Homo sapiens: one gene and its partners. The protein of the gene in region 1 interacts with the protein of each later gene in a pairwise test. Each region holds a gene or a part of one and is shown in the gene's direction. Other genes may lie near its edges. The genes, in order: ATP23, CTNNA3, PLSCR4 and ABI2.

Evidence for each region.
Region 2: the proteins of ATP23 (region 1) and CTNNA3 interact in binary tests that used the Homo sapiens proteins (3 or more experiments, as listed by UniProt).
Region 3: the proteins of ATP23 (region 1) and PLSCR4 interact in binary tests that used the Homo sapiens proteins (3 or more experiments, as listed by UniProt).
Region 4: the proteins of ATP23 (region 1) and ABI2 interact in binary tests that used the Homo sapiens proteins (3 or more experiments, as listed by UniProt).

What each region holds. Positions count from the first base shown.
Region 1 is NC_000012.12:57,937,530-57,944,596, forward strand, and holds the start of ATP23 (mitochondrial inner membrane protease ATP23 homolog), read left to right. Parts: upstream 1-4,037; 5' UTR 4,038-4,172; coding exon 4,173-4,359; exon of another isoform or gene 4,360-4,368; coding exon of another isoform or gene 4,369-4,399; intron 4,400-7,067.
Region 2 is NC_000010.11:67,693,157-67,700,549, reverse strand, and holds the start of CTNNA3 (catenin alpha-3), read left to right. Parts: upstream 1-4,354; 5' UTR 4,355-4,550; intron 4,551-7,393. UniProt on the Homo sapiens protein: May be involved in formation of stretch-resistant cell-cell adhesion complexes.
Region 3 is NC_000003.12:146,206,102-146,213,140, reverse strand, and holds part of PLSCR4 (phospholipid scramblase 4), read left to right. Parts: intron 1-6,379; coding exon 6,380-6,615; intron 6,616-7,039. UniProt on the Homo sapiens protein: Catalyzes metal ion-induced ATP-independent rapid bidirectional and non-specific movement of phospholipids (lipid scrambling or lipid flip-flop) between the inner and outer leaflet of the plasma membrane and participates in the redistribution of phospholipids between membrane leaflets.
Region 4 is NC_000002.12:203,429,355-203,432,669, forward strand, and holds the end of ABI2 (abl interactor 2), read left to right. Parts: 3' UTR 1-1,646; coding exon of another isoform or gene 1,647-1,651; 3' UTR 1,652-2,815; downstream 2,816-3,315. UniProt on the Homo sapiens protein: Regulator of actin cytoskeleton dynamics underlying cell motility and adhesion. Functions as a component of the WAVE complex, which activates actin nucleating machinery Arp2/3 to drive lamellipodia formation.

The sequences.
Region 1 (7,067 bases):
CAGGCATGAGCCACCCGCGCCCAGCCTGAATTTTTTTTTTTTTTGAGCTGTTGTCTTGCTCTGTCGCCCAGGCTGGAGTGCAGTGGCGCGATCCCAGCTCACTGAGGCAGGAGAATTGCTTGAACCCAGGAGGCAGAGGTTGCAGTGAGCCGGGATGGCGCCACTGCACTCCAGCCTGGGCGACAGAGCAAGACTCTGGCTCAAAAAACAAAAAAACAAAAAAACAAAACAAAACACCCAAAAACTTTTAATGAACATATTTTGTTTAAAAAAGACACTTAACATGGTTGTATATATTCCATTATACCTCTTGTTGGATATTTAAACAATTGATGTCTTCCCCTGCCGCCCCTTTTTTTTGAGGAGGAGGTGTCTTGCTGTATCACACAGGCTGGTCTTGAACTTCTGGGCTCAGGCAGTCCTCCTGCCTTAGCCTCCCAAATAGCTATGATTACATGCCACTGGCCTGGCCATTTTTGCTCTCAATTAGTGCTGCAATGGAGAAATGAAAATCCTTATAGCTAAATCTTTGCCCTTGCTCTAATTTCTTTGTGGTAATTCTTTTTCTTTTTAAAACTCATTTGTATTTGCTGTTCATTATCTCTTCCTTAATGTGTTTTTATTCCATACCTATGTCTTTATACTGTATACAGATGAAGTTACACATGGCATCCAAAGCCCACTTGATTTTTTAAAGTTTATTTTTCTGATTATAAAGGTAATACATGCTTATTGAGGAACATTAGAAAATTTCAGGAGAATGTAACAAAAAAATTCCAATACCTAGACAACCATTGATACTGTGGTATGAATTTTTTTCCATCTGTTTCTTCAACAATGAGTATTGAAACAGTTTTAGCTAATTTAGTAAGGAAATGTTGCAGCTTTTGGTTTGTACGTTTTTACTTATTCCTGTAGCTGAAGGGTATTGCAAATAGTATCCAGAAATAAAGCCACATACCTACAACCAACTGATCTTAGACAATGACAACAAAAACATATAATGGGAAAAGACACTCTATTTAATAAATGGTGCTACACAAAGTGGATAGACATGCAGAGGAATGAAACTGCACCCCTTTCTTTCACCATATACCAAAATTAACTCAAGATGAATTAGAGTTAAATTTAAGACCTGAAACAATAAAAACCCTAGAAGAAAACCTAGGAAAAACTCTTGTGGAGATTGACCTAGGCAAATAATTTATGAGCAAGTCCTCAAAAGCAAATGCAACAAAAACAAAAACAGACAAATGAGTTTCATTAAGCTAAAAAGCTTCTGCATAGTAAGATAAAGAATCAAATAACCTACAGAATGGAAGAACATATTTACAAACTGTGCATCCAACAAAGGACTAATATCCAGAATCTACAAGGAACTCAACCAGAAAAAACTAAATAACCCTATTCAAAAGTGGGCAAAAGACAGGAATAGACATTTCTCAAAAGAAGACATACAAGTGGCTAATAAACATGATAAACTTCTCAACATCACTAATCATCAGAGAAATGCAGATTAAAACCACGGTGAGATACCATCTTGCACCAGTCAGAATGACTATTATTAAAAAGTCAAAAAACAACCCGATATTGATGAGAATTCAGAAAAAAGAGATTGCCTATACACTGTTGGTGGGAATGTAAATTAGTACAACCTCTGTGGAAACTAGTATGGAGATTTCTCAAAGAACTAAAAATAGAACTACCATTTGACCCAGCAATCTCACTACTGGCTACCCAAAGGAAAACAAATTGTGACTGGGTGTGGTGGCTCATGCTTGTAATCCTAGAGCTTTGGGAGGCTGAGGCAGGAGGATCACTTGATGCCAGGAGTTTGAGACCAGCCTGAGCAATATAGCAAAAAACCTCCATCTCTACAAAAAATTAAAAAGTTAACCAGACATGATGGTGCATGCCAGTAGTTCTAGCTACTCGAGAGACTGAGGTGGTAGGATTGCTTAAGCCCAAGAATTCAAGGCTGTGGTGAGCTATGATTACGCCACTGCACTCCAGCCTGGGTGACAGAGCAAGAACCTGTCTCTGAAAAAGAAAAAAAAAAGAAGAAATTGTTATGACAAAAAGACAAAGACATAGAATCAACCATTAACCTAAGTGTCCACCAACAGATGGTTAAAGAAAATGTGGTTATGCATACACCACGGAATACTATGCAGCCATAAAAATAATGAAATCATGTCTTTTGCAGCAACATGGATGGAGCTGGGGGCCATTATCCTAAGTGAAATAACTCAGAAGCAGAAAATCAAACACCCCATGTTCTCACTTATAAGTGGAAGCTAAAGACTGAGTGCACGTGGACATACAGAGGGGAATAATAGACACTGGGGACTCCAAAAGTGGGGAGAGTGGGAGGGGAAGGGTGAGGGTTGAAAAATTAACTATTGGGTACAATGTTCACTGTTTGGGTGATGGGTACACTAGAAGCCCAGACCTCACCACTACACAATATATCTGTATAATAAACCTACACATAAACCACCTGAATCTATGTATTAAAAAAGAAAGCATGAAAAAAATCCAAATAGTATTTCAAATGTATATAGGCTATGGTCCATTTCTAGGCATATCTAGCCTGCCTTCAGTATTCCAAACTAATCACACTGAATTGTAATGGCTTAGTTTTCCATATGTGTGTTTTAGTTCAATAACTGGATTGAAAGCTAGTTGTGTGGTCCTAGATAAATTATTGAATTTTGCTGAGCCCACTTTATCTGCAAATTAGAGATAATACTTACTTTGCAGGGTTGTAGTGAGGATTGGAAATAATGTATCCAAGGTGAATTTAATTAAAAAGTAGTTACTTTTTTTTTGACTTCTGGCTTTAATAGTCTATGTACATAGGAGTTGTTTGTATTTTTATAATATTCCAGATGAATGACTATCCTAGCATCCCACTCAATTTAGATATTGAGCATCTATGACACATAAAGCACTGTTCATAACCCTAAAGGCCTGCTGAGCCTATATTTTTCAGATATGTTTCTTACATAAACCACATGCTGCTCTTCATCTTTAGCAATTTTCTTAGTCATGTGTTTCCTCAGTCTCTTACACCTTGCCTGGCCCATCATAGTAGGTGCTGAATAAATGTGTGAGCTGAGTGGAATAATTTAGTAGGAAAAGAGAAACACACAAATTGGATAAAACCTGGCAGGCTACGATGAAAATGATTAACAGGTACAAAGTGCTTTGTACATTGGGAGATCAGGAGACATTAATTTTGATTAAGGTATCTGGGAATGCCCTGTGGAGTAGGCAGATTTGACCTGGGCCCCAATCATAGGGGCTGAGGCAAGGAGCTTAAAGATGGAAATGACAGTATGAGTTAAGGCTGAGAGGTAGAAGTAAACAGGGTGCGCTTTGTTATCAGGGAGTTATTGGTGGGGGGTGGGGCAGAAGAGTAGGGTAAACGAATGGGTACAGGTGGGAAGAAAAAATGTAGTTGGTTCCTACATTTTGAGGATTTTGATGTGACTAGTCATTCTTTATAGTTTTAAAACGTTTCTGAAAAACACTGCTTTCAATATGGCCAGAGGCATCTTTGGGCAGAGTGGATCTGAGGGATGGCAGGGGTCGGGAAAGTGGCGGGCCAGAAATGACAACTGGCTTGCCCCGGAAGAAGGCAGGGAGTGGGAGGATGGCCGAGACCTTCGGCGGCACAAGAGCAGTTAGTGGCCAATATTCGCCCCGAGGTGAGGAAGGAGTGTCTGCGAGGAGGCGGGACACCCTTAGAGCTCAGCAGGCAGCAGGAAGCTGCAGAACAACGCTTATAAAGACATGTCACCCACACTGGGAGGGCAGCAGCGAAATCCGCGGCAGCCGGGTTGTTACAGCCTTTGAGGGAAGTCGCAAGACCCAGCTCCGCCCAACAGCATCGGGCCCCGCGCCCCGCCCCATGCCCTCGCCCCGCCCCTCATCCCTCGCCCCGCCCCTCGCCTCTCGCCCCGCCCCTCGCCTCTCGCCCCGCCTCCCGCGCTCCCCGTCAGGTTCAAAGCCCCCTCCCGCCTAACGTCTTCAGCCCAGCCAGGCTGCCCTTCTTCCCTGCGGAGGGAGGGCCTGGGCGGTCGCGTTGGCGGGAGGGAGGTTACCTTTCCCAGTCTCGCTCTGGCCGCCTGAGCCAGGAGGAAGCAGCGGCGAGGTCTGCGGGAGGCATGGCGGGAGCTCCGGACGAGCGCCGGCGGGGCCCCGCGGCAGGGGAGCAGCTGCAGCAGCAACACGTCTCTTGCCAGGTCTTCCCCGAGCGTCTGGCCCAGGGGAATCCCCAGCAAGGGTTCTTCTCCAGCTTCTTCACCAGCAACCAGAAGTGCCAGCTTAGGCTCCTGAAGACGCTGGAGACAAGTAGGAGCCATGACCTGGAGGCTGTGGTTCCACAGAATGGGTCTGAGACCGGGTGGGCGAGGAAGGGCCTGGGCAACACCTGGCCAGGGGCTTCAGGTTCAGCACAGAGTCTAGACAGACTGGGCATCATGGGGGCTGGGTTGGGAGCCTGAGGCTCAGTTTCCCCACTAGAGGTGGCGCTGAGACCCTTTTCGTCGCTGTTTTTGGCTTGTGGAATGAATTTGTCTGCCCTTTTTTGTCACTCACTGTTGTGACAGATCCTCCGATTTCTTACATAAGTTATGCAGCCACACTGTGACTTCAGGGTAAGGGTGAGGCCAAGTTTTAAAGTGCCAGCCAGGTTAATTAAGGCACACAAAGGCTGTAAAAATGTAAAAATGTAATTAAGGCATACCAAGGCTGTAAAAATATAAAAGCAGTTTTGCAAACCTACCGTTCCTTGGAAGTGGTTCATGCATGAATGGGCTTCAGAGCGTAGAAATCCCTGAAATGGTCTGTGAAATCGTGTGTATGTGTGTGTGTGTGCCCCTAAGTGCATTTTTTTTTTTTTTTTGAGACGGAGTCTCGCTCTGTCGCCCAGGCTGGGGTGCAGTGGCGCGATCTTTGCTCACTGCAAGCTCCGCCTACTGGGTTCACGCCGTTCTCCTGCCTCAGCCTCCCGAGTAGCTGGGACTACAGGCGCTCGCCACCACACCCTGCTAATTTTTTGTATTTTTAGTAGAGACGGGTTTTCACCGTGTTAGCCAGGATGGTCTTGATCTCCTGACCTCGTGATCTGCCTGCCTCGGCCTCCCAAAGTGCTGGGATTACAGGCGTGAGTCACTGCGCCCGGCCCAAAGTGTATTTTTTTTTGGTCGGGGGAGAGAGTTAATAGCTTCATCATATTCTCAAAGAGGCCAACGACCCCACAAAGGTTAAGAACTGCTGTGGGTTAAACAGGGACACAACTGCCCATTGACAAATTTCTCTCCCGTCCCAGAGACATTGCACTAGAGAAGATTTCTTAATTCCTTTACATTGACATAGACTTCTTAAGTTTACTTTCAGATACATTCAGAAAATTAGTCTTAAACATACTTGTCCCAAAGCAAGGTTACTATTTCATAGCTAGTCAGTCACAGTTCAAAAGTCAACCACCGAAAGATTTTCCAACCTTCTTGGGATTACCTGCTTGTAGAGACTCAGGGAGGTAGGAGGAGGAAGGGGAGTTGAGGGTAAAAGGGGAGAGAATGATGATATTGTATTTACTGTACAAATATGTATTGAGTGCCTCCCAGGTTCTGGTGGGGGAAGTAGAAAGATGAGTTAGCACCCTGCCTTGAAGGTGCTTCAAAGTGGAATAGAGTGGAAAGAGTATGGGTTGCAGAGTTAGATGTGGGTTCAAATGCGGATCCCTTTCCTCAGGTGTGGAAGGTGACTTAACTTCTCTGATCCTCACTATCCTTATTGTAAAAAAAGAGAAGGGGAAAATACCTTTTTTAGGGTTGTTGTGAAGAATAGATTTTATGGGGCTGGGTACGGTGGCTCATGCCTGTAATCTCAGCACTTTGGGGAGCCAAGGCAGGGGGATTGCTTGAGCTCAGATGTTTAAGACCAGCCTGGGTAATATAGGGAGACCCTGTCTCTACAAAAAATAAAAAAAATTAGCTGGATGTGGTGGCTCATGCCTGCAGTCCCAACTATTTAGGAGGCTGAGGCAGGAGATTTGCTTGAACCCAGGAGGCTGAGGCTGCAGTGAGCTGTTATTGCATCACTGCACTCCAGCCTGGGCAACAGAGCGAGACCCTGTCTAAAAAAAAAAAAAGTACTGATTTTATGAATGTAAAGTACCAGCATATCAGGAGCTGAGCTGAATAAATGGTAGCTGTTTTTACAGTGGAAGGGCCACACAGTGGAGGAAGAGTGGAAATAGATAGGATGTGAGGAAGGTGGGGTGCTGAACATGAGCCCCAGTAGGAATCAATGGACCTTGATCTTCCAAGGGCAGGGTGGCTGGGAGGGTCTTTTGGTGGTATTAAAGTGTCAACCTGCAGCTTTAAAATGCTATCCCTGGGTGGGGCGTGGTGGTGGAAACCAGACCTCATGGGAGTCTCTTTTTTTTTTTTTTTTTTCACCAAAGCAATTTTATTCTAAATATTGCTGCAGGTCCTTTTTGAAGTACTAAACCATGGTTTTTTTTTTTTTTAAGTACAAGGACTACAGACTTTTGAAACTGTTTTAATTTTGTAAAATTCTCCTAGTTGCATGAATAATAATGTGCTTAATATGGTGCCTGCTACCTGGTATTCACTCAATAATACGTATTGTTAACAATAATTATTCTACTGTGAACACTCTTGCAAGGGGCAGGTTGGTAAAGCAGTAACCTATACCTGACTTTCTCATCTCACATTTCTTTTTCTCACCTATTTTTGCCTTCAACATTTTTTTTAAACCTTAGTTTCTTTTTCACTTTTTTTGGGTTACATCATATAATTGGCTGTGCATTTATATTCTCAGACAAGATGCCTATGTGAAAAGTTAATATCAGAGGCATTTGGGCTCCTTGTACTTTCCTGTAGTAGTCACGGGCCCATAGAGTCTTAGATGTGGAAGGGCCCTCAGGAATCGTCTAGGCCTCCCCGTCCCCTTACAGGGAAACCTCTGTGCTATTGCTGGCCAGATACTCTACAGACCTCTCCTGGAATACAGTTACCTGTTCCTTGAGG
Region 2 (7,393 bases), on another chromosome or scaffold:
TCTGTTGGAGTTTGCTAGAGGTCCACTCCAGACCCTGTTTGCTGGATATCAGCAGCGGAGATTGCAAAACAGCGGATTTTCGTGAACCGTGAATGCTGCTGTCTGATCGTTCCTCTGCAAGTTTTGTCTCAGAGGAGTACCTGGCCGTGTGAGGTGTCAGTCTGCCCCTACTGGGGGGTGCCTCCCAGTTAGGCTGCTCGGGGGTCAAGGGGTCAGGGACCCACTTGAGGAGGCAGTCTGCCCATTCTCAGATCTGCAGCTGCGTGCTGGGAGAACCACTGCTCTCTTCAAAGCTGTCAGACAGGTACACTTAAGTCTGCAGAGGTTACTGCTGTCTTTTTGTTTGTCTGTGCCCTGCCCCCAGAGGTGGAGCCTACAGAGGCAGGCAGGCCTCCTTGAGCTGTGGTGGGCTCCACCCATTTCGAGCTTCCTGGCTGCTTTGTTTACCTAAGCAAGCCTGGGCAATGGCGGGCGCCCCTCCCCCAGCCTCGCTGCTGCCTTGCAGTTTGATCTCAGACTGCTGTGCTAGCAATCAGTGAGACTCTGTGGGCATAGGACCCTCCAAAGCATGTGCGGGATATAATCTCCTGGTGCGCTGTCTTTTAAGCCCATCGGAAAAGCGCAGTATTAGGGTGGGAGTGACCCGATTTTCCAGGTGCCGTCTGTCACCCCTTTCTTTGACTAGGAAAGGGAACTCCCCGACCCGTTGTTCTTTCCGAGTGAGGCAGTGGCTTGCCCGACTTCGGCTCGCGAACGGTGCACTGCACCCACTGTCCTGCGCCCACTGTCTGGCACTCCCTAGTGAGATGAACCTGGTACCTCAGATGGAAATGCAGAAATCACCCGTCTTCTGCGTCGCTCATGCTGGGAGCTGTAGACCGGAGCTGTTCCTATTCAGCCATCTTGGCTCCACCTTCTCTTTTCTTAACTGCTTCTTAGTAATCCCTGAGTGAAATGTCTATCCTCAAATACTGGAAATTCCTTAGCGTGTACCTGGGTGGCTTCATTGTCTTTCATTTTGAGCCATAGTCACCAATTATTGGCAACAGGAGAAGTCCCACTCAATATCCTATGTCATTTAAAGATCTCATTTGAAGCCATAGGTTAGGATGTGTTATCCCCTCAGGTGACAGAATGGTTTGGCCACCTGGAGGTTGTTGATAGACTTAAAAATGACCCTTTTGGGAGTGAAGGGGAAATAAATCATCTTAGTGGGTTGTGAAGTGAGAGGTAAAAACATAGGGGTGGTGGACAACTCATTTGGGAAGTATTATGATGAAGGCACAGAGAACTAAGTAGCAACCACAGGGAGTTGTAGGGTAAAAGTATGTTTTGTTTGTTTGAAAATTTTCAGGTAGAAGTCCTGTGGCATATTTTTGCACTGATCATTGGAGAAAGGGTGATAATGCAGTGTGTGAGGTGATCGTGAAGGAGCAGAGTCCTTGAAAAGGTGAGGGAAGAAGGGATCCAGCACACAAGAGAGATTAGCCTTTGGTAAGAGCAAGAGGACTTCTTGCATTTTAATAGGAGGGAGGGTAGAGAAGATGAGGCTCGGTGTTAGTGGGTTTATAGATTTGATGATGGAAAGATGTGAAACATCTTCCAGATGGCTTCTGTTCTTCTTAGTGAGGCAGGAGAGTTGGTTAGCTGCTAATAATAAGGATGGTTGGGAAGGGAGAGTGAGAAACATTTTTTTTTTTTGTATTAATAGTACATAAGACCTTCAAATCAGGGGCAGATTCATTTAGATTCACCTAAAATACCTGACAAGGTGCCAGAAGTATTTATCACATATTTTTGAAAAAAATGGTTTTAATTATCACAAACAGGGATTATTCCTAGCTTTAAATCTCATTTTAGAAAGGTATTATGGCTGTTCAGAAAATTACATATTTTTAAAGCCCGAACCTGAAATTGCCAGTATTTTGAGATATTATGGACAGATGAAATGGACTCATGGTTCATGCAAAAGTGATTTTCATTCTATAAGGGATTTTATTGACAAGAAGAAACTACTCCATTCTGACTAAAGAACATATTGCACCCTGGAGGATTTATTTTCCAAGAGAGGCTACTGACAGGGATAGAATTATCTTCTTTTTGGAGGCCTCCCTTCTCTCCTGTAATCTTCTAGCTGGCGCCTAACACAGGGCTCTGCATCAAGGGGCTTCTCAATACATCCAATTGAATGACTTTGTTTGGGGCCGGTCCTGATGCCCAGAACGAAAAAACTTACTTTTGATTACCTCGGGAGAATTGCTAGTAATGGCCCTGATTTATTCTCTCTCTTTTTTCTCTCTTTTTTTTTTCCCCAGCTCTTCTACCCTCAATGTTTGATTGCTTGCAAGAGGCATGTGAGCCAAAATTTTAAAGTTTGCAAAGTATAAAGAAAGGAAACAAGTAAATAGGGAAGGAGAATAAATACTGAACAAGACTGGGCAAGGTGACAAGAAAGAACTACTGTGAAAATCTGGAAGAGGGCCAGGATGCAAAATGCAGGGGCTGTGTAGTTTACAGGAACTATTTAGCCTCCAGCATGCCTCAGCGATCACACAGAGAAAGGCAGATTTCTCTGCTTTTGTCTCCTACCCTATAGTTAGCTATGGAAATTTGACATAGGTGATATATGTTTTCTGTCAGCAAACTGATACAAATACAGAGGACCATGGGGCCTGTGATCAACAAATCCAACGTGATTTGAATTGCTAGGAGGGGACCTCTTGTGGCTATAGTGGGAAATACTTCAGCTAAATACTACCTTGGAGGCTGCAGATATTTTTATGAAGGAATTAAAAAAAAACCCACTATAAAAGCTCTTTAAAATTACATTTCAGATATTTATAATATTTAATTGTTTTGATAACACCAAATTCTGTAAGAAGGTTTTATCTGTATTGCATCTCTGAAGAGTTCAGTGTAATTTAAAGCTCTTCAGCTTTTATCCATTTAATTCACATATCCTCTGAAAAGCAAATGAAAAGAATAAGAGTTCTCATCTACATTTTGTAGGTGGAAAGGAGAGGTACAGGGCAGGTAAGTAACTTATTGTGGTTTCACAGCAGGACAAGCTAGGCTTATGATAGAATTTGGATATCTCATCTTGGGCTCAATTCAACAGTCCTGGTTTGGAAAACATTCATTATTAAAGCTCTAAAACAAAACCTGCTATTTTGCAAGTGTCAAGTGATTTCTTTATTCAAGAAAAGATGGATTGAGAGACATAAAACTTACTCTTTGTTTCACTGTGAAAAGATGCTATTCCTAGATTCTCCAGGGGGAAAAAGCTGCTTTAAAAAAATCTGGGGAGGATAGCATGTTAGCAACTAAGAATCTTTAGATAAATATATTGTCAATTATGCCCATTTTAAAGGTAGCTACATAAAAATACAGTTGTTTTGAAGGCTATCCTGAAAATCATATAAAATGAACTCCTTTCATAGTTGATTCTCTGACAGTTCCCAGACCCTGCCTTTCCTCTTGGCTCCCTGAAATTTGTGCTAAGAGTATCTGGAGAGCCAATAAATAAATGCTTTCTTTTTATTTTGAATTCAGCCTTTTAAGAACAGGACTGCCAAAACTCAAACAAGTAGTTCATATTTTAGTTAGCACCTCTTGTTTTAGAAGCTATTAGAAGAAAGTCGGAAAAATGGTAATGTCCAAGGAAATGCCACAGAAGTTCGAGTGGGATGTCAAGGAATTGATGAAATGATAAAGATTGTTTCAGTGGATGTGAAGATATTGAGGGAGAAGATATCAAAAAAAAGGGAAAAGGAAATGTGAAAAAGAATAGTCATAGAGAGAAAAAATAAATTTTGGTGGAGAAGACTTTTTTTTTTGGTGGCTTAAATTTAATAATGGGTTAACCTATTGAGTTTTTGGTAAATCTTCAGTTTAGATTCTTTACTGATAATGATGTGGTTCCTCATAAATACTGGAAGGAGAGAGTGTGATGCTTGGTACAAGGGATGAGACAGGTAATATTTCAGAAGAAGAAAAATACGATCTCAGATGTGACACATGGCCTTGATGCCATCATCTCTAGGGTTCTGAAGACATTGAATTTTACATAATTGATCTTTTGATGTGAGGATTTCCTGGACTCTTGTTTTCCCTGCTTTATCATTTTTCACTTTCAATAATTCCAGCCTTTGGCTTTAATTAGATAGAAGAGGTTCTTCTTTTGGAAAGGAACTAGAGAAATGCAAATCTAAACTTATTCAGAGCTATGTTTGTAGGTCTCTAGGCAAAGTATGTGTCTGGCCTTTTTCAACGAAGTATTTTCAGTAACAAGTTGTCAGTGAGGTCAGTGACTAGCGGTTCAGGATTAGATACCACCCACCCTGGCTTGTAACCTCCCCTTTCTTTCTTATCCTGGGTGAACAACGCTCAGCGAAATTGACTGCCCCACTGTCATCTGCCTCTCAATTTGGTACTCTGTAACTCTGTGACCACCAAGAAGCCTTTTTCCGTCCCCCACAAAGCTCTTTTTGGAAAATTCCCTACGGGAGCTGAATTTTAAGCCCATTTACTTTATAGGAAGAAACAGAAAGGTAAGAATCAAGTTTGTAAAGAGAAGAGCTGAACTTCAGCGAATTCTCATTTCTGCATTGAATTCCTGTGTCTTAGTTATAATCATAGGTTTAAAATTTGGGGTTTTCTTCTGAACTGAGGAAGATCACATTATTGTATGAAATAGGAATGTTTTGACTAGTTATGAGAAACGTAGGCTTTCACGCTAATTTTAAAGTTATAAATAACTTTCGAACTATTGCCAGGGGAAGCTGGTAGCCAAGGTCGTGCTTTGCATTCAGAGAGTTTCTGGCTATAAAAAGCCGATTGGATACTGTGCAGGAAAAGATAAGATATGGCCTGGATGCTTGTGCTTTGGCATGGGAGTGGGGAAAAGGAAGCAAAGATGGAATATGTTTGAAGGGATTTTACTTTCAACCAAAAGCTAATTCATAGTAAATGGAAGATGTTTCAAGTGAGATAATGGCAAAAAGCATTAATTTCTGAATTTAATGTCTATTTGTTTTATAATTGGAAGGAATATTAAGAGGTTGAGGAATGCTCTCAGAACTGTTTGATGACCAGTTATAGTCAAATGAAAATCACTGTATGGAATGATCATGAGATGTAATGATCAATCATGTAAAGAAAAGGTCACTATCTAATGGGATCTGAATGATTGTGAGCAGCTGCTGTCAGTTACACGGAAGACAAATAAAAGAAATGAGTTCAAATGGAAACAAGAAGAAATTGGGGTTAGACATCAGAAAGTTCATTTACTGTAGAGGTTTTGAGTCACTGATATGTGCCTACTAAGATCTCTGGAGATAACGTGAGAATGCAATGATTTGCTTAAAACAAAGTGGAAAAAGCAGGATTTCAAGTTTGCATTGGTTCTGGGTTTGTGGCTAGCTTTTTAGACAGATTGAAAGCTCAACATATTGAGAATAGTTGTGATTTGAAGATTCAGATTATCCATGGTCAGATTTGAATGGCATATTTGAGTGTGCTATTAAAATTTCATTGTCCATTATAAAAAATTATCTCAGTAGAACCATAGGACAAGTTTGTTAAATGGAGAAACCTAAAATACAGACAGTATAGACAAAGTTATTCCCATTTGTTACCTCCTACACATAGTCTAAATCTTCCTATTTGAGTAAAGATTGGTAAAACTTTTTTTCATTATAAAAGCATTAAATGTTCATCGTAGGAATTTTGAAAGCACAGAAAAATATTTCCTGTAATTTCATTGATGTGTTTCCTTCTAGTCTTTTTTTTTCTAGATGGCTTTAAAAATAATTGCAATAATAGTATAGATAAAATTTGGAACCTTGCTTTTTCATTTAACCATATACCAAAACATTTTCCACAGAATATTACCTATTCTACAGTGGTGTTATTTTAAATTTGTGTAACATTTGTTCAAGTGAATGAATATAATTTTATTAATCATTGCTGAACATCTAGATGCTATGGTAAACATCTTTGTGTATTTATTTACTTATGTGTATATGTATGTTGTAGATATGTTTAAGATAATTTCCTTAATCTCTGTTTCTAACTGTAGAAGTGTTGGATTAGAGAACACTATGTTTGAAGGTAAAAGTTGTGATATTTAAGATGTGTTTTTACTGTTATTCTTTTAAAGCATTGTAAAATTCCTAGTCTACCAAATGATATATTTATTGTCTATGATGTGCAAAACATTGTTATCAGGCACATAGATACCAAAATACTTAGTGTTTAGAAGGATGGAATCTCTCCTACCTACAAAATTTCCACTCAATAAACTTTTACAGATATCAACAAAGCTACATGTCAGAGTTGAAAATACTTCAGCTCTGCCTGAAACCGATAGATAGTATTGTTGATCACTTACGTTACTTTGCACATGAAAATAACAGAATGTATAAGTAACTTTATTAGAAGACCATGTAGACATAGTGATTTATATGACTTTTATGATACAACTGTGACAAAGAAATAGGAATAGGAAGAATAAATTCTTTACTTATTGTGAATCTTTGGAGAAATTAGAAGTATTTGGAGAAAATCTGTAGGCAACAGACTAGAAAGAAAAGGGATAGAGGGCACATGCTAGAGGAGCAATTCAGTATTGGGTTTTTCTATAGGGAAAACATGAGAATGGAATTAGGCGTGGCTATGGTAGGAGTCAGAGAAGATAAGTTTTAATTCTGTCATTGTTGAGTTTGAGAACCATGTTGTGTAAATAGAGTAGAAGGAAGAAAGCTAAGGAATTAGTGATAAATACAACTAATTATTGGAAGTGGTTACTGGTCCCAAGTAATCAAAGTGGAGAGATTAGAGATATCAATATTATGTGGTGTGAAGTGAGAGGTAGAGTTATGAATTATCAAATAATATATTCTTCCTGTATTAAAAAACTTTTTAAATTGTGAAGTTTTTATTATTCAGTAATAATATTTAGAGAAAAACCATAGCTACAGAAGGATGGGAGTTTCATTCTCTATTCCCCATGAACTTCTGTTTGCATGTTTCTATTTTTTTTGGAATAGAAGGGATTAAGATTTAAGAAGAGAAGTTGGCAACCCAAACTGGCCTGAAGAGAAATTATGCGCTTTGTAATGAAAACTTGAAAATAGTGTTTATTTATGGATCATTGGCTCATGGGAATGCTAGTCTAGAGATTTAAAAAGTGTGATTTTCTGATTCTTGTTTGGATACTGGATTTTAAGTGAGATGGTACAGCGGGGTGGAACTCCGGAGTTTAGCAAAGTTGCAAATCTAATGGAAAGTGACAGATAATTGAGGCTGCAGAATTTTTGAAGGTGAACAGGACTGTTAGCCGATACATCTGATTTTTCACATGCTTAAATACTGTTTTTAACCACATTATTTT
Region 3 (7,039 bases), on another chromosome or scaffold:
CTCAACAAATTACTAGCAAACCAGATTTAGGAACATAAAAAAGGATTAAACACCATGACCAAGTGGGATTTATCCCATGGATAAAAGATTGGTTTATCACATTAAATATCATATTAAAACACATCAATGTATGTACTATATTAATAAAATATAGTACAAACACCACATGACCACATCAGTAAGCACAGAAATCACACTTGACAAAATACAACATCCTCCATGATAAAAACACTTAAGAAACTAGAAATAGGAGGAACTCCCTCAATCTGATAAAAGAGTACCTATGAAAAACTCACACCAAACATTATGTTTAGGAGTAAAGACTGAAAACGTTCATTTCATCTAAGATCAAGAATGAGACAGGGTATCTTTCTTGCCACTTCTATTCAGCATTGTACTGGAAGTTCTAGCCAGAGCAATTAGTCAAGAAAAAGAAAGAAAATTCATCCAGATTGAAAGAAAGAAACAAAACCATCTCCATTTGCAGAAGACATGAGCCTATATATGTAAAAAGTCTAAGCTGGGTGCAGTGGTACACTCCTGTACTCCTGTAGTCCCAGTTACCTGGAGGCTAGGGTAGAAGGATCAATTGAGTCCAGGGATTTGAGACTGCAGTGAACTATGATCATACTACTGCACTTCAGCCTGGGTGACAGACTGAGACCCTGTCTAAAAAAAAAAAAACCCAAAAAACAAAAAAAAACAAAACAAAAAAACCCATATATACCCACAAACAGCACAATAAACAAGTTCAGCAGTGTGTTAGGATATAAGATCATAATACAGAAATCCAAAAGTATTTCTATATATTAACAATGAAAAATGTAAAAAGAAATTAAAATTATAATTCCACATACAATAACATTAAAAATAACATACCCAGAAGTAACTTTAATAAAAGGAGTAAAATATCTTTCATATTGAAAACTATAAAACGTTGAAAGAAATTAAAGAAGACTACGTAAGTGGAAAGGCATTTTACAGATTTGAAAAGTAAATATTGTTAAATGGAAATGCTCCTTAAATTGATCTACAGATTCAACACAATTCTTATCACAGTGGAATTTTTAAATTGACAGGCTATTCCTCAAATACATATGGAAATGTAAAGGATTCAGAATAGCCTAAACAATCTTGAAAAAAAATTGGAGGACTCACAATTCCCAATTTCCAATTTACTATAAAGCTACAGAAGTCAATACCACAGTACTAGCATAAAGATAGACATATAGACCAATGAGATAGAATTGAGAGTCTAAGAAATAAACCCAAACATCTGTAGCCAACTGATTTTTTACAAGCATGTCAAAATAATTCAATAGGGAAAGAATACTCTTTTCAACAAAGGATCTGAGACAAATGAATATCAACATACAAAAGAATGATTTGAAACTGTCTCACCCTAAACACAAAAACTCTAAATGAATCAAAGATCTATGTGTTTGAAAGACCTATGTCTAAGAGTGAAAACTATAAAACTTTTACAAGATATAGATGTAAGTATTTATGTCCTTGGATTAGGCAATAGTTTCTTAGATATGATATGACACTCTAAAGCACAAACAACCAACAAAAAATAAATTGGACTTCATAACAATTAAAAAGTTTTGTATATCTAAGGACACTATCAAAGAGAAAAGACAACCTACACAATGAGAGAAAACACTTGCAAACTATCTGGCAAGAGACTTTTATCTTGAATATATAAAGAACATTTATAATGCAACAATAAAAAGACAAATGATTCAGTTTTAAAGTAGGCAAAAGATTTAATAGATAGTTCTCCAAAGGAGATATACAAATGGCCAATAAGCACATGAAAAGATGCTGAACATCATTAGTAATCAGAAAAATGCAAATAAAAATCACAATAAGATACAACTTCATACCCACTAAGATGACTAAAATAAAAACAGACAATAACAAGTATTGGTGGAGGATGTGGAGAAAGTAGAACTCTCATATTTGCAAGTGGACATGAAATTGTAAAGCCACTTTGGAAAACAGTTTGGCAGTTAATAATGGAGTTACTAAATATTTCAGCTAATTTCACTCATAGCTAGAGAACTGAAAACATGTCCACACTAAAACTTGTACATGGAGGATCACAGCAGTGTTATTTATAATAGCCCAGAGTGAAAGCAACCTAAATGTCCATTGACTGATTAAACAATACCTAAAATGTGATATATCCACACAATAGAATACTACTCAGCCATAAAATGGAATTAAGTACTTATATGTGCTACAACATGGATGAACCTTGAAAACATGCCAAGTGTAAAAAAAAAAACAGACATAAAGGCCTATTGTATGTTTTCATTTACATGAAAAGTGTAGATTAGGCAAATCCACAGATAGTAGTGGTTTTCAGGGACTGTGGGGAAGAGGAGATGGAAATTGCTGCTAATGGGTATGGGTGTTCTTTCTGGTATGATGAAAATTCTGGGTTTAGGTAGCAGTGATGGTTGCACAACTTTGAGAATATACTTAAAACCACTACATTGTACATTTTAAAAAAGGATCAATGAAATAAAATGTTTTGTTAATCTCAAGTTTTGCCATAGAGATCCTGTTGCAATAGATTGGAATGAGGCTCAGAATCTGGAATTTTACTAAGAACTCCAGATTATCTTGAAGGACTTGGTATATTGAGCCACAATTTAAGAAACAATATGTTGAGGTGATTTTTTTCTCTAAATTTAAACATCTGCCTTTGAAAATCTGAAAAATCTAGTTCCATTTTTAAAAATTGCCTTCATGTCTTGTCACTAAGGCTTCAGATTTTACAGTTCAAGTCTTAGCTGGTATTCCCTGCTCATAAAAAGTTGTTTTTATTTAATTTAAACTAAAATAGATCCACAGTTGGACCCCTATATTTGTGAATTCTTCATCCATGGATTCAAAAAAGTGTGGATTAAAAATATTTTAAAAGCACAATTAAAAATGACAATAAAAATTATACAATAAAAATAACACAAAAACAATTTATATTAGCATTTACATTGTGTTAGCTATTGTAAGTAATCTAGACATCATTTAAAGTATATGGGAGGCTGTGAGTAGGTTACATGTAAATACTACACCATTTTATATAAGGGACTTAAGCATTTGTAGGTTTTGGTATTTGAGGGAGTCCTGGAACCAATCCTTTATGAATATCAAGGGACGACTATACTGAAATCTTAACATAAAATATCTTGACTTACATAACTTATTTTGTTTTCAACCACAGGACATTATTCCTTAAATTCTCTCTTAAAGGAGAAAAACCTTTCTTTATCTGAGCCTGGCCTTCCTGACAGTTCAGACAACATCACTTGTGGGCTGCTTGTGGCTCTACTACTCACAGGATTTCAGTTAGAGCTACAAGACCTTAGCAATAAGTTAGGGTCTGTTGCATATTTCTGGGTAGACAACCAAGACCCAGTTATTTATAAATTTTAATTAATTAATCTTAAAAACTTGGAAAGTGAAACAAAAATAAATTAGTAATGATCAAAGTTATTCAAAAAATTCCTGGTAACCAGACCTAGATAGATATGCAGTAATGGCATTCTCATACTTATTGTTGGCAATTCTTTGACTTTAAAAAAACATAGTGAAATGCAAAGTTACCACTGCTTATCTTAAGAGACCTTGATAAAAAAATTCCTAAAGTCAAACATTAGCTGTTGTGTGCTTATTCATTTTTATGAGTACTCTTTTTAAAAAATATTTTATTTCCATAGGATTTTGGGGAACAGGTGGTATTTGGTTATATGAGTAAGTTCTTTAGTGGTGATATTTTGTGAGATTCTAGTGCACCCACCACCCAAGCAGTATACACTGAACCCAATTTGTAGCCTTTTATCCCTCACCCCCTTCCCATCATTACCCCTGAGCCCCCAAAGTCCATTCCATTGTATCATTTCTATGCCTTTGCATCCTCATAGCTTAGCTCCCACTTACGTGTGAGAACATACAATATTTGGTTTTCCATTCCTGAATTACTTTCCTTAGAATAATAGTCTCCAATCGCATCCAGGTTGCTGTGAATGCCATTAATTCATTCCTTTTTATGGCTGAGTAGTATTCCATCATATATATATGTAATCCCACATTTTTCTTTATCCACTCGTAGATTGATGGGCATTTGGGCTAGTTCCGTATTATAGCAGTGAATTGCGCTGCTATAAACATGCATATGCAAGTATCTTTTTTTGACTTCTTTTCCCCTGGATAAATACCCCAGTAGTGGGATTGCTGGATCAAATGGTAGTTCTACTTTTAGTTCTTTAAGGAATCTCCACACTGTTTTCCATAGTGGCTATACTAGTTTACATTCCCACCAGCAGTGTAGAAGTGTTCCCTGTTCTCCGTACATGTCAACATCTGTTATTTTTTGAGTTTTTGATTATGGCCATTCTTGCAGGAATAAGGGGTTATTACATTGTGGTTTTGATTTACATTTCCCTGATCATTAGTGATGCTGAGTATTTTTTCATACAATTGTTGGCCATTTGTGTATCTTCTTTTGAGAATTGTCTATTCATGTCCTTATCCCACTTTTTGATGGGATTGTTTGTATTTTCTTGCTAATTTGTTTGAGTTCGTTACAGATTCTGGATATTAGTCCTTTGTCAGATGTATAGATTGTGTTTGGGTTGTCTGTTTACTCTGCTGACTGTTGTTTTTGCTGTGCAAAAGCTCTTTAGTTTAATTAAGTCCCACCTACTTATCATTGCTTTTGTTGCATTTGCTTTTGGGTTTTTGGTCATGAAGTCTTTGCCTAAGCCAATATCTAGAAGGGTTTTTCTGATATTATCTTCTAGAATTTTTATAGTTTCAGGTCTTAGATTTAAGTGCTTGATCCATCTTGCGTTGATTTTTATATAAGGTGAGAGATGAGCATCCAGTTTCATTCTCATACATGTGGCTAGCCAATTATCCCAGTACCATTTGTTGAATAGGGTGTCCTTTCCCCACTTTGTGTTTTGTTTGCTTTGTCAAAGATCAGTTGGCTGTATTTGGGTTTATTTTTGGGTTCCCTATTCTGTTCCATTGGTCTATGTGCCTATTTTTATACCAGTACCATCTTGTTTTGGTGACTATGTCCTTATAGTATCATTTGAAATCAAGTAATGTGATGCCTCCAGATTTGTTCTTTTCACTTACTTAGTTTTGCTTTGGCTATGCAGGCTCTTTTTTGGTTGCATATGAATTTTAGGATTGTTTTTTCTAGTTCTGTGAAGAACGGTGATAGTATTTTGATGGGAATTGCATTGAATATGTAGACTGTGCTCTTAAAGCATGATAAAATCTTGTATCCATTTAAGGAAATCTAGGTTCCTTGATGGACTTATAATGACAAAGATAATTCATCAGATCTCTGATTGAAGGTGGAATGGGGAGAAATGATAGAGGGATAAGTGCTGTGGGCTGAATGTTTATATCCCTCCCAAATTCACATATTGAAGTCCCATTTCCCAATGTGATGTTACTTGGAAGTGGGGCCTTTCAGAGAAAATTAAATCAAAAGAGTGGAGCCCTCATGATGGCACTCATACCCTATAAGAGGAGACATGAGAGGGATTCTGTCTTTCTGTCTCTCTCTCTCCCCCTTCACTCTGTGAGCATATAGCAAGAAGGTGAACATCTGCAAACCAGGAAAGGCTCTCACCAGGTTTGACCATGCTAACATTTATCTTTGAACTTCCCAGCCTCCAGAACTATAAGAAAGAAATGCTTGTTGTTTAAGCCACTCAGTTTGTGCTTATTTTGTTATAGCAGCATAACTACTAAGAAAATAACTTTAAGAAATTGAATCTAAAAGAGGTCAGGATTGGGGACCAGTCTGAGAACTCGATGATGAAGATATGTACAAGCGATTGGGTCAAGGCAACCTAAAATATTCATTAAAAGCACTCCTTTGAAATGAAGTAGACATTATTTATGTAACCACAAACAATAACAATAGACATAATAACAAAAATTTGCAGGAGTAATTATATGTTAGTAATTATACGTTAGTAATTAATACGTTAGTAATTAATCCCACTACAACCTCATTAGGTAAGTTTATTATCTCCAAGGAGGAACCTAATTTATTAAGAAGCTAACATGTTTCTTCTAATGTTTCAAAACTTATTTTTGTACCATTGAAATGGGAATAATTATCTTATAAGCTTTAAGAGGATTAAATGAATTAATATGTAAATAAGTCTCCCTAATACATCGTTGGGTCATATGCAACCATGATCTGCATAAAGTGTGAATCAAAAATGGAACAAGTTGTTATATTTAAGTGGATGTCGTGTGATCTATTTCATCGCATGTAAAAAGTTATGCTAACTTTAGTGTTAATAATATATAACACTTTGATTTCTTTTGAACACAGGACCCCCTGGAACAGCTGTCCCTCCACCTACTGGCTACCCAGGAGGCTTGCCTATGGGATACTACAGTCCACAGCAACCCAGTACCTTCCCTTTGTACCAGCCAGTTGGTGGTATCCATCCTGTCCGGTATCAGCCTGGCAAATATCCTATGCCAAATCAGTCTGTTCCAATAACATGGATGCCAGGGCCAACTCCTATGGCAAACTGCCCTCCTGGTCTGGAATACTTAGTTCAGGTACTCCATGAAAATACAAATTATTTTCTTATGAAATGTGACCATAGGGATCCAACAAAGAGAGAAAAAAAGCAGACCAGAGTGAATAAAGGAGATGGGTCAGTGATGACAGATGCCATTTGTGAAACTATAAGAACAGTGATACCAGTTTCAGAAATATGAAGGGGAAACAGCAAGTACAAGGATGTTTATAGTGGGATGAGTATGTTTTTCATAAGGATTTATGTTGAACTTCAAGGCATTCAAGATGTTTTCTTGAAAGAATTGTACAAATGGAAATAGAAAAACTATCATAGAGGATAGTTGTGTTATTTGCTTAGAAGTAAACAGTTAACATCAAAAAAAGCACAAAAGAGAACAAAACACAATACAGTGGGTAAATTACTGAGTGCCTTAGCCCATTGCTTTTTACCACCACCCATCA
Region 4 (3,315 bases), on another chromosome or scaffold:
TAATTAGAAAAACTGTTTTAAATTAGATGTTCCCATTATTTATTTAAACAGCTTTTTGCTGAGAAAGCTTAGTGGATTAATGAGGCAGAGGGTGTTTTGAAATCCAATAAATAGTTCCCACAGGCTGGGTGTGGTGGCTTATGCCTGTAATCCCAGCACTTTCGGAGGCCGAGGTGGGTGGATCATGAGGTCAATAAATTGAGACCATCCTGGCCAACATGGTGAAACCCCATCTCTACTAAAAACACAAAAATTAGCTGGGCGTGGTGGCGCACACCTGTAGTCCCAGCTACTTGGGAGGCTGAGGCAGGAGAATCACTGGAACCTGGGAGGCAGAGGTTGCAGTGAGCCGAGATTGTGCCACTGCACTCCAGCCTGGTGACAGAGCGAGACTCCATCAAAAAAAAAAAAAAAAAGTTCCCACAGCTCACCACTACAGAAGCAGGGAAGACAACTATGCAGAAAACAGAGTTAGTGGCGGTCAGCAGGAATGCAGCTGGTCTTTTGGACCCCTACGGGATGGGGGCAGTGCAGAAGACACTGGTGAAGTCCTTTATACTGAAGACCTGTGGTTGGGAGCAGGGGTAGTCCATGGGTCTGCTGATTTTTTTTCCCTATTTAGTACTAATGTGTGTGTGATCTTTGTTTTACAAACAGTACCTTTTGGGTTTTCTGCATATTTTATAATTTTTGTACAGTTTTGAATTCTATAGATTGTCTTGGAAGGATACTGTGTGATGGGTCAGGCACACAGTAATTGGAGACTTTTAATGTATGTAATATTTCATAGATTGCATGCTATTAATCATCTGTGAGGGTAGTATTTTTTGTTTTATTGTAAGTTTCCCTCTTTTTTTATAAATTAAAAGATGGTTGGTATTAGGAATTTCAAATGAATGCAGAAAATCTTACATGCTGTGTACTATTAATATTATAACAGACGATCCAAGTCCAAAATCTGACCAATAAAGCAACCATTTTATCAAGATAGAGGGATTCTAATGGGAGAGGGGATTCTTCCCTCCTGAAGTTTGTGTGTCCAGTCCCCTTAAAAAAAATGAATAGTTGTCTTTTCTTGTCATATTAATACTCGAAAGTCCATGGTGGTATTAATGAAAGTACACTTTATTGTTGCCTTTGAACTTACGGCCAAGGCAATAAATCAGAAACAAAAATAGTGCCAATGTGTCAAAATCGACATCTGAGAGATTCAGCCTCCCATTTGGAATAAATATGAATCTTCTAAGCTATCTTGTTTAATATTTTCCATCATTTAGCTACTTCCTATCTCCCTCAGAGGCGCCTGCTGTTCCCATTTTAGAGTTGACAGTGGCCTGCTAATTTTGCTATGTTCCTAAAAGTTACTGGGTGTGAGACATTTTCATCCCCTCCTTTTTCCTACTGCTGGTGTTTATTATCCAGCTAGACAATATTTTATGCATATTTACCGTGATGTCTGGACCGTACCTGTGCTCCTTGGCAGTTTATGTTGAAGATAACTAAAGATTTTTCTCTTTGGGAGGCATCAAAATGATGGTAGTTTGCTTTTATCTTTTTATGTTCATTTTCTTTTAGTAGGTGACCTTTCTGCATTAAGAACTGTTTTTATCTTTTACTACCTTTTCTTTTCTCCTTTGTGGAGACAGCATGACATGTCCTGAAGGTCACCTTTGCCTTTGAAAAAGGTTTGATGGAGGAATTCACAGGTGACTGACAAGTCTTTGAAAAGAATGGGATCTGCTCACTTCTGGTCTTTTTGGCCGGGAACTCCTGATTGGTGTTAAGGTGGTAATTTCCCCCATATAAGATTTAGAATCACTGAGTTTGAGCTAGATGAAATTTTTAAAATTTCTGGTTGTCTCATTAGACTGATGAGGTGAGTTTTCTTCTTCATATGAACAGCTAGTTAATAACAGCAGAGTTCTCACTCAGTGCTCAGTACTTAATTTTCCACTGCACCACAACTGTCTTAACTAAATGTGCTGTATTTTTCTTTAAAAGTTAAGAGTTCTATTTGGTGTTTTCAGGAATATACGTGAAAAGACATGCCATGTTTTGGTAAATACCATCAGAGTTGTGTAAAGGCGTGTACTAAGTGCAATCTTAATTTGTGGAAATAATCTTCATTTACCCCTCCTAAAACTACACTCAGTATAAACACTTTCCCATAAGGTGTGTGCAGTAAAAATGTTATATTACTCCAACACTGGCAGGAGCACAGCACAGCAGCCTTATTGGAGAGAGCCTTATAAAAGTGATTAAATGGAGGCATTGAGCTCATTACCTTTAAGTTTACTTTGTGCTGACCTTTGTTCCTGTTTTGAGAATCTCATATAATTATTAAAAAAAAAAAACAATTAAAACGAAACGGCGGGGCCTAGCTGTGTATAAATGATCCTTGCTGAATATCTTAAGGTTTTTTGTAAGAAAAAAGAAAAACCAACAAAAAAAGCTTATTTTCACATTAAAATGAAACCTCTTTTGCAACTTAAGAATTCTATGGAAAAGCAGTTTTTATCATATTTTGTGTCCATGCACCATTTTTCTTAAAATGGCTTACAAAAAAGAATGTAAACAATTTGTGATCTGGCCAGTTGTACTTTTAGCTCCCAGAGGGAGAGTTGGTGGTATTATGAGTTGAGTAAAAACCATCCAGGGGAACTTGAGGGAGCAGTCTGTTGCCAGTAATGTTCCTTGTGTGCCATTAAACCACCTCCAGATGAGTGGAGGAACATCACTTTTTAATTTTTTAATTGTATTTGGAATTGTTGCCGTGTACTAAGAACTTGACCTAAATAAAATCCCACAAAGTATATTCAGGTGTCTTGTTAACTTATTTATATAAATAACCTCTTTTTCTAAGGTGGTATCTTGAGTTTACGTGTTAGGGATAATCTGACTTTTCTGTTGCTCTAAACCAGGGAGCTGCCTTTTATTACTGAAGAAGTCGTCTTTTTAAATTTTCAAAGATTTAAAATGTTGAGCTTTAAATTTGATCTCAAGTTTCTTCCCTGAAGACAGCTGTTCTAATTAAGAACTTTCTAATCCTGTTTTTGCTCCACTCGCACCTGGGGTTTTCTTACCACTTTTCTCCAAATCTAATTCTGTTAATGTACAGTTTTTTTAATTCAACAGACAAACACTGAAGATGGGTGTTGACTAAAAAATATTGCAGACTGGTCAGAAGTGAATCTAAAAGACAAACCACTAACTAGCCTGTGCTTTGTTGCTATGAGAGCCTAGATTATAAAAGAATTTTCTAATGATGTATCTGAGGGTAGCAAGTAAGTTTGTCTTCACAATACCCAAAATGAT